Homo sapiens: one gene and its partner. The protein of the gene in region 1 interacts with the protein of each later gene in a pairwise test. Each region holds a gene or a part of one and is shown on either strand. Other genes may lie near its edges.

The links. Proteins that work in one complex are often made in the same cells at the same time.
Region 2: the proteins of CEP57L1 (region 1) and CCDC57 interact in binary tests that used the Homo sapiens proteins (3 or more experiments, as listed by UniProt).

The regions. Positions count from the first base shown.
Region 1 is NC_000006.12:109,171,626-109,175,301, reverse strand, and holds the end of CEP57L1 (centrosomal protein CEP57L1), read right to left. Parts: 3' UTR 884-3,676; downstream 1-883. UniProt on the Homo sapiens protein: Centrosomal protein which may be required for microtubule attachment to centrosomes.
Region 2 is NC_000017.11:82,167,703-82,171,672, forward strand, and holds part of CCDC57 (coiled-coil domain-containing protein 57), read right to left. Parts: intron 1-3,970. UniProt on the Homo sapiens protein: Pleiotropic regulator of centriole duplication, mitosis, and ciliogenesis. Critical interface between centrosome and microtubule-mediated cellular processes. Centriole duplication protein required for recruitment of CEP63, CEP152, and PLK4 to the centrosome.

The DNA.
Region 1 (3,676 bases):
CTGTCATCTAAGATACATCTTTTCTTTGCATCTGGGTCTTAAGACATGAGTTTGGTCAAATTGATAGGTTGCATTAGTAGGTTGGAAAGTTGCTCATATTACTCCCTACATCACTGATTTACTTTCTTTCTCATCTTCTGACCATTGACGAAACTTGTTTTTCATTTTTTTGTGCCACTATGAGTTCAAATCAATTAAGAAAAATATTTTTGTGGCCACTGGAATGCAGAGAAGCCCTTGGAGATCTGGAGCTGCTACCATTAACCAATGACTCACGCTTTTTGTACTTTTATTACATTTGATCCATCTGTGGCTAATGTTATAAACTAAGGCTGGTAGTTCTGTGTATTGCTATTATTTTTTGAGATAGGGTCTTGCTCTGTCTCCCAGGTTGGAGTGCAGTGGCATGATCATGGTTCACACGGCCTCCATCTCTGGGGCTCAAGCAATCCTCCCATCTCAGCCTCCCAAGTAGCTGAAACTACAGGCATGCATCACTATGCCTGGCTAATTTTTAAATTTTTTTTGTAGAGATGAGGTCTCACTATGTTGCCAAAGCTGGTCTCAAACTCCTGAGCTCAAGCCATCCTCCCACCTCAGCCTCCCAAAGGACTTGGATTACAGGCGTGAGCTACCACGCCCAGCCTGCGTATTAATTTTTAAAAACCATCTTTTTTCTCCTCAAAAAGGAAGGCATAGTTCTTTGTAATAGTCCATTTGTAATTACACAGCTTTCTTTCTCCAAAGTCAATGTCCTTTCTCCCTCAGAAATATGCTGGAGATTGAACAGTCAGAAAAAAACATCATTTGAACACACTATTTAGGGATATCTAACTCCAACAGACAAATCTACCATGAAAAAGAACAAAATATACACAGTGAACAAACTTGGAAATTGTTTTTATGTAACTTTAGAGCAAAGGGTAGAAACTTTACAGAAGGTTTTGCTTGGTTTGTGTAACCATTCTACAAATAAGCCTGGATCTGTGATGGGATGGGAATGATTGCTGCCAGCTTGTCTGGAACATTATGACCTCTGCAAGAAATCTGAAAAGTTCTCAGTGCATAACATACTCTCTCCCTTCTCAAAAGAAAAGAGTAAAGTATCCATCTTAGACACTGTAATTTATATCCATTAGGCCCTATCTCCTAACACTGCTTCATTGGAGATGGTTTCCAACACAAGGTTTTTTTTTTTTTTTGAGACCAAGACTCACTCTATGGCTCAGGCTGGAGTGCAATGGCATGATCTCGGCTCACTGCACCCTCTGTCTCCTGGGTTCAAGCGATTCTCCTGCCTCAGCCTGATGAGTAGCTGAGACTACAGGTGCATGCCACCACACCCAGCTAATTTTTTTTTTTTTTTTAGTAGAGACGGGGTTTCACCATGTTGGAGGCTGGTCTCAAACTCCTGACCTCAAGTGATCCACCTTCCTTTGCCTCCCAAAGTGCTGGGATTATAGGCGTGAGCCACTACGTTCAGCCCCAACACATGGCTTTTGAGTGACATATTGAAATCATAGCATGTGACTGATTTCTATTTCTAATGGACACAGAAAAATTCTGCCGGGCACAGTGGCTCATGCCTGTAATCCCAGAGCTTTGGGAGGCTGAGGTGGAAGGATTGCTTGAGCCCAGAGTTTGAGACCAGCCTGGGCAGCAAAGTGAGACCGCGTCTCCTCAAAAAAAAAAATTTTTTTTTTTTTTTAATTAGCCAGGTGTGGTGGCATGCACCTGTAGTCCCAGCTACTTGGGAGGCAGAGGCAGGAGGACTGCTTAAGCCCAAGAGTTTGAGGTTGCAGTGAGCTTTGATTGCATTCACTCCACTCCAGCCTGGGTGACAGAACAAGACCCTGAAAAGAAAAAAAAAAAAAAAAGAAAGGTAGGGGGCGGGCTGAGGGGGAAGGAAAGGAAAGATTCCTTTCTTCTTTATCTCAAACTCTCAATAGGCCACCCTTGAATAAACTGGAAGGAAATAATATTCTTTAAATGGTCTCATGTTCCAACTGACCTTTTAGGATTCAGGAAAAAAATTAATAAAAATTATTAATATAACTTGTAAGTAATACAGTGTCAGGAAAATGCAAAAATAATACTGTAGAAAATGACACAATTAAAAAGTACACAAACAATGGTATACATGGTTAAATATTACACAAAAGTATCCCTTTACTTTTCACAGACATGTGGCTATTTGCATAGGTTCAAAAAAAACATGTTCTCCTTCCTACCAGGCAATAATTAACAAATCACTTTTGTAACCATCACCATGCCACACATCTCATTAAAGTAGATATGGCAAACCCATTATTAAGCAAAGCAGTCCAAGCAACTTGGCTGAGGTAAATTGACCGGTTCTTGGTTCCTGACTTCAGTATAGTATGTGGGCAGTATCTTACACATAAAGAAATGACAACCTCTTGGGCTTGAAAAAGCCTCCAGACAAAGTTAACTCCTATGTTGTAGTAACACATGGCCCTAGTTTTATTAACTAGACTTATAAGAAGGTCTTTGTATACTAAGCGTAACCTTTTATCACACTCACATAATAAAACTAGTCATCAAACTAATGATACTAAATCAGAAAATCACTAAGCAAATTTATGGCCAATTCCATGCTTTAGGAGGAAATTTGGAGGCAAGACTGACACCTTAACCAGAGGCCATGATAGGTAAGCAATGCACATCACTTTTGGGTCAGAAAACAAAAAACAATACCGCAGTAAAGGATCAACATAGCAAGTCTTGATTGTGTAAACTTTTCACATTCCAAAGAAATGTTTGTCCTGTGTCCAGATTCAAGATAACCTCTAAGTCCTTGGACTATCCTGCCTGATATGAATGTTTTAATTTACTTGGGGGCCTTAGGCCATACCAGGTAGTCTAAGCTAACAATGTGATTAATGGTGAAGTCCTTAGGCCATGTAGTATCAGCTCCATCTTTGGAGGGGCTGAAAACTGAAGGTCAGCCACATGGGCTATCAGTCATGCTATGCCTACGTGACCAACCCTCAAGAAAAAATCTGGACACCAAGGCTTGGTGGAGCTTCCCTGGTTAGCAATTCTCCAAGAATGTTGTCACACATTGTTGCTGAGAGAATTATGGTCTGTCTGCTGAGAGAATTATGGTCTGTCTACATGACTTCACAGGTGAAGGACAACTGGAAGCTTGTGCCTGGTGTCCCCCAGACTTTGCCCTATGTGCCTTTTTTCAGCTGCTGATTTTAATATATATTCTTTTGCTATAATATACCATAACCATAACTTAACAGCTTTTCTGAGTTCTGTGAGTCCCTCCAGTGAATCACTGATCCTGAAGGTGGTCTTGGGGACCACCCGAGATAAAACACTGAGGTAAGGTTAACAACAAAAACAGTCACCACACTGTCTAGTTCTCATTTCCCATGTAAATGAAACCTTGAGCCTTTCCTGTAAATTACTAATAACTATATCCCTGGTCTTGGCAATGCTGATATCTAAGGATACATGATGACCTCTGATATGATGATTATCTGAGGAAACTGTTTTCCACCATGAAAAGAATAACTAAACTTGGTGACTTTGGTAATTTTGTAGGTTTTTTCATTTTTTAATTTGATAAGCCTGTCCTCCTAAAGCTTGTACTCCCTTGCAAGACTTCTTTGCATATAAACTCCTAAATGCTTTAATCTTTTAG
Region 2 (3,970 bases), on another chromosome or scaffold:
ACTCCTGACCTCAAGTGATCCACCCACCTCGGCCTCCCAAAGTGCTGGGATTACAGGTGTGCGCCACCGTGCCCAGCTAATTTTTGTATTTTTAGTAGATACGGGGTTTCGCCATGTTGGCCAGGCTGGCCTTCAACTACTGACCTCAGGTGATCCACCTGCCTTGGCCTCCCAAAGTGCTGGGATGACAGGCATGAGCCACGGCGCCCGGCCTGTCAACGTAATTTTAAGAGTTAAGTGTGAAAGAATGTCTATCATATTCATCCTTGCCATTAGTTTTCCTTCACTCCTGACATTCCTAGTTTCCTTCCTTCTGTTGTGTCTAAAGTACCTCCTTTATCAGTTCTTTTAGATCCAGTCTGCTGGTGACAAACTTTTCCTTCATCTGAGAATGTCTTTATTCACTCTCATTCCTGAAGAATATTTTTACTGAATGTATAATTATGGGTTGACAGTTTTTTGCTTTCAGTACTTGAAAAATATTATGCCACTTCCTTCTGAGGAGAAATCTGATGACAGCTGCTGCTGAGAACCCACTACCGCTCCAGTCACTGTCCCCTGTGGGCTGTGCATCGCTCTCTCTGTGTGCTTTCAACAGTTTTTGTCTTTAGGCCGGGCGCAGTGGCTCACGCCTGTAATTCCAGCACTTTGGGAGGCCAGCGCAAGTGGATCACCTGAGGCCAGAAGTTCGAGACCAGCCTGGCCAACATGGTGAAACCCTGTCTCTACTAACAATACAAACGCCACCAGCTGGGCATGGTGGCACATGCCTGTAACCCTAGCTACTTTGGAGGCTGAGGCATGAGAATCGCTCGAACCCAGGAGGCAGAGGTTGCAGTGAGCCGAGATTGTGCCACTGCACTCCAGCCTGGGCAACAGAGACTCCGTCTCAAAAAACAAGAAATTCATTTCAAATATAAAAGAGAGAGGTAGGTAAAAAGAAAAAGGGATGAAAAAGTTATACCACGCGAATGCTAATCAAAAGAAAGCCCGAGTGGATTAATTAATATCAGACAAGGTAGACTTCAGAACAAAGAATGTTGCCAGACAAAGAGGAAGATTACGTAACAATATAAGGGTCAATTATCCTAAAAAAAAAAAACCCTAAATGTATACACATCTAACAACAAAGATACAAAATATATGAAACAAAAACAAAGAATCGTGATTTAAAAAATAAAGATCTATATTAAAACAGGAATAGAAAGAAACTTCCTTAACCTCCCTCCACTACCCCCACCACAAAAAACCTTCAGCAAAAACTCAACCTAAAAAAGTGAAATGCTGAAAGTTCTTCCTCTGGGATTAGGGAGAAAGACAGCTATTATCAACATCATACCGGAGAGTTTAGCTAGGGGCGATAATGCAAGAAGAAGTAAACAATATCAGCATTGGAAAAGAAAAATAAAACCTCCCTTATTTTATTTTACTTTATTTTTTTTGAGATGGAGTCTCGCTCTGTTACCTAGGCTGGAGTGTAGTGGTGCAATCTCGGCTCACTGCAACCTCCGCCTCCTGGGTTCAAGTGATTCTCCTGCCTCAGCCTCCCAAGTGGCTGGGATTACAGGTGCCTGCCACCACGCCCAGCTAATTTTTTTGTATTTTTAGTAGAGACGGGGTTTCACCATGTTGGCCAGGCTGGTCTCAAACTCCCGACCTCAGGTGATCCACCCACCTCGGCCTCCCAAAGTGCTGGGATTACAGGCGTGAGCCACTGCGCCCGGCAAAAACCTCCCCTATTTGAGACAATCTGTGCCAGTGGAGTGTCCTGTCTGGCCCCTCCCTTTCTTTTCCTGCCTTAGGCCTGCAGATGGGGCCTGCCTCCCCTACACTAAGGGGGGCTGTGGCTCCAGCAGGGTGAAGGCATCTGTGTGGAAGGCAGCCAGGCTGGGCTGTCAAGCTCGGTGATGCTGGGGAGGCATCCAGGCAGGAGAGGGGCCTGCAAATAGGGGAAGGGGCCACAGCAGCAATGGGGGATTGGTTACACCAAGAGGACTCGATCAAAGTAACTGTGTTAGTGATAATGGGCGAGCCAGGTTTCTCATTATTGGGAAAGGAAGTTAGAATAATGAAAAAGAAAGCTAGAATGCTAGAATGAACCTTTTGATGTTGGACTAACCACAATGGAATAGATTAGCCTATGAGTTTGTCTTGAAATTAAGACCTTCCATTCACCAAAGACACCAGTGAAGGAATAAAAGGCAAGCCATAGACTGGGAGAAGATATTTGCAACACATATAACCAACGCTAGGCTCATATTCAGCATAAAATACCCTAAAAAAATCTATGACAAAGGGCAGATGATCCAATAAACAATGGGCAAAAGACATGGCCTGGAGCTCCAAAAGAGGGGCTGTCGAAAGGCCAATTCTATGGACTGAGCTCTGCCCCCCAAAATTTACGGGTTGAAGCTCTCACCCCGAACATGACTGTATTTGGAGACAGCGCCTCTGAGGAGGCAGCTAAGGTTACATGAGGTCCTAAGGCTGGGGCCCTGGACTGTTGTCCTTACAAGAAGAGGAAGAGTCGGGCGCGGTGTCTCACGCCTGTCATCCCAGCACTTTGGGAGGCTCAGGTAGGCAGATCACGAGGTCAGGAGTTCGGGACCAGCCTGACCAACGTGGTGAAACCTCATCTCTACTAAAAATACAAAAATTAGCCGGGCGTGGTGGCATGCACCTGTAATCCCAGCTACTCAGGAGGCTGAGGCAGGAGAATCGCTTGAACTTGGGAGGCAGAGGCTGCAATGAGCCAAAATCATGCCACTGCACTCCACCCTGGGCAACAGAGCAAGACTCTGTCCCAAAAAAAAAAAAAAAAAAGAGGAAGAGACACCAGGAGTGAGCATGCAGCGGGGGAGGAGTCACGTGAGCACGCAGGGGGAGAGTCCACATGAGCACGCAGGGGAGAGGGTGCCGTCTGCAAGCCACAGAGAGGCCTCAGGAGGAACCCACCCTGCCGGCAACCTGATCTCTGACATCCAGACTCCAGAAGTGAGAAAATAAAACCGTTGTTTAAGCCACTCAGGCTGTGGTGTTGAGTTACGGCAGCCCTAGCCAATCATACGCCAATGCACACAGGAAGAGATGTTCAATCCCACGAATCTCATGAATTTGCAAATTAAACCAAAATAGGATGTGCTACGTGTCCACTAGAGGGAACAGAAGGAGCCGCTGACCACGTAAGTGTTGGCGCGCATGCAGCACCACGGCTACCTCGCACGATGTGGATGGATGCTTTGGAGAAGAATCTGGCATTATCAAGTGAAACACAGTGTAGGTCTGAAGACGCCAGACAGAAGCACAGGTGCCACAGAATTCCATTCACACCAAAACAGGGAGCGCTGACTGCAGTGAGCAGCCAGGGCACGTGGGCTCCGGAGGGAGCACAAGGAATTCCATTCACACCAAAACAGGGAGCGCTGACTGCAGTGAGGAGCCAGGGCACGTGGGCTCCGGAGGGAGCACAAGGAATTCCATTCACACCAAAACAGGGAGCGCTGACTGCAGTGAGGAGCCAGGGCACGTGGGCTCCGGAGGGAGCGCGAGGAATTCCATTCACACCAAAACAGGGAGCGCTGACTGCAGTGAGGAGCCAGGGCACGTGGGCTCTGGAGGTAGCTCCAGGAATTCCATTCACACCAAAACAGGGAGGGCTGACTGCAGTGAGGAGCCAGGGCACGTGGGCTCTGGAGGGAGCACAAGGAATTCCATTCACACCAAAACAGGGAACGCTGACTGCAGTGAGGAGCCAGGGCACGTGGGCTCCGGAGGGAGCACAAGGAATTCCATTCACACCAAAACAGGGAACGCTGACTGCAGTGAGGAGCCAGGGCACGTGGGCTCTGGAGGGAGCACAAGGGGCTGCTGGGCTGGATGACGCCGCCCCAACGTCTGCAGTAGCCTTGAGCTGTATATTTGCTATGAGCGGACTTTTGCAGGGGTCAGATTTCAGTTTATAAGGGGACAG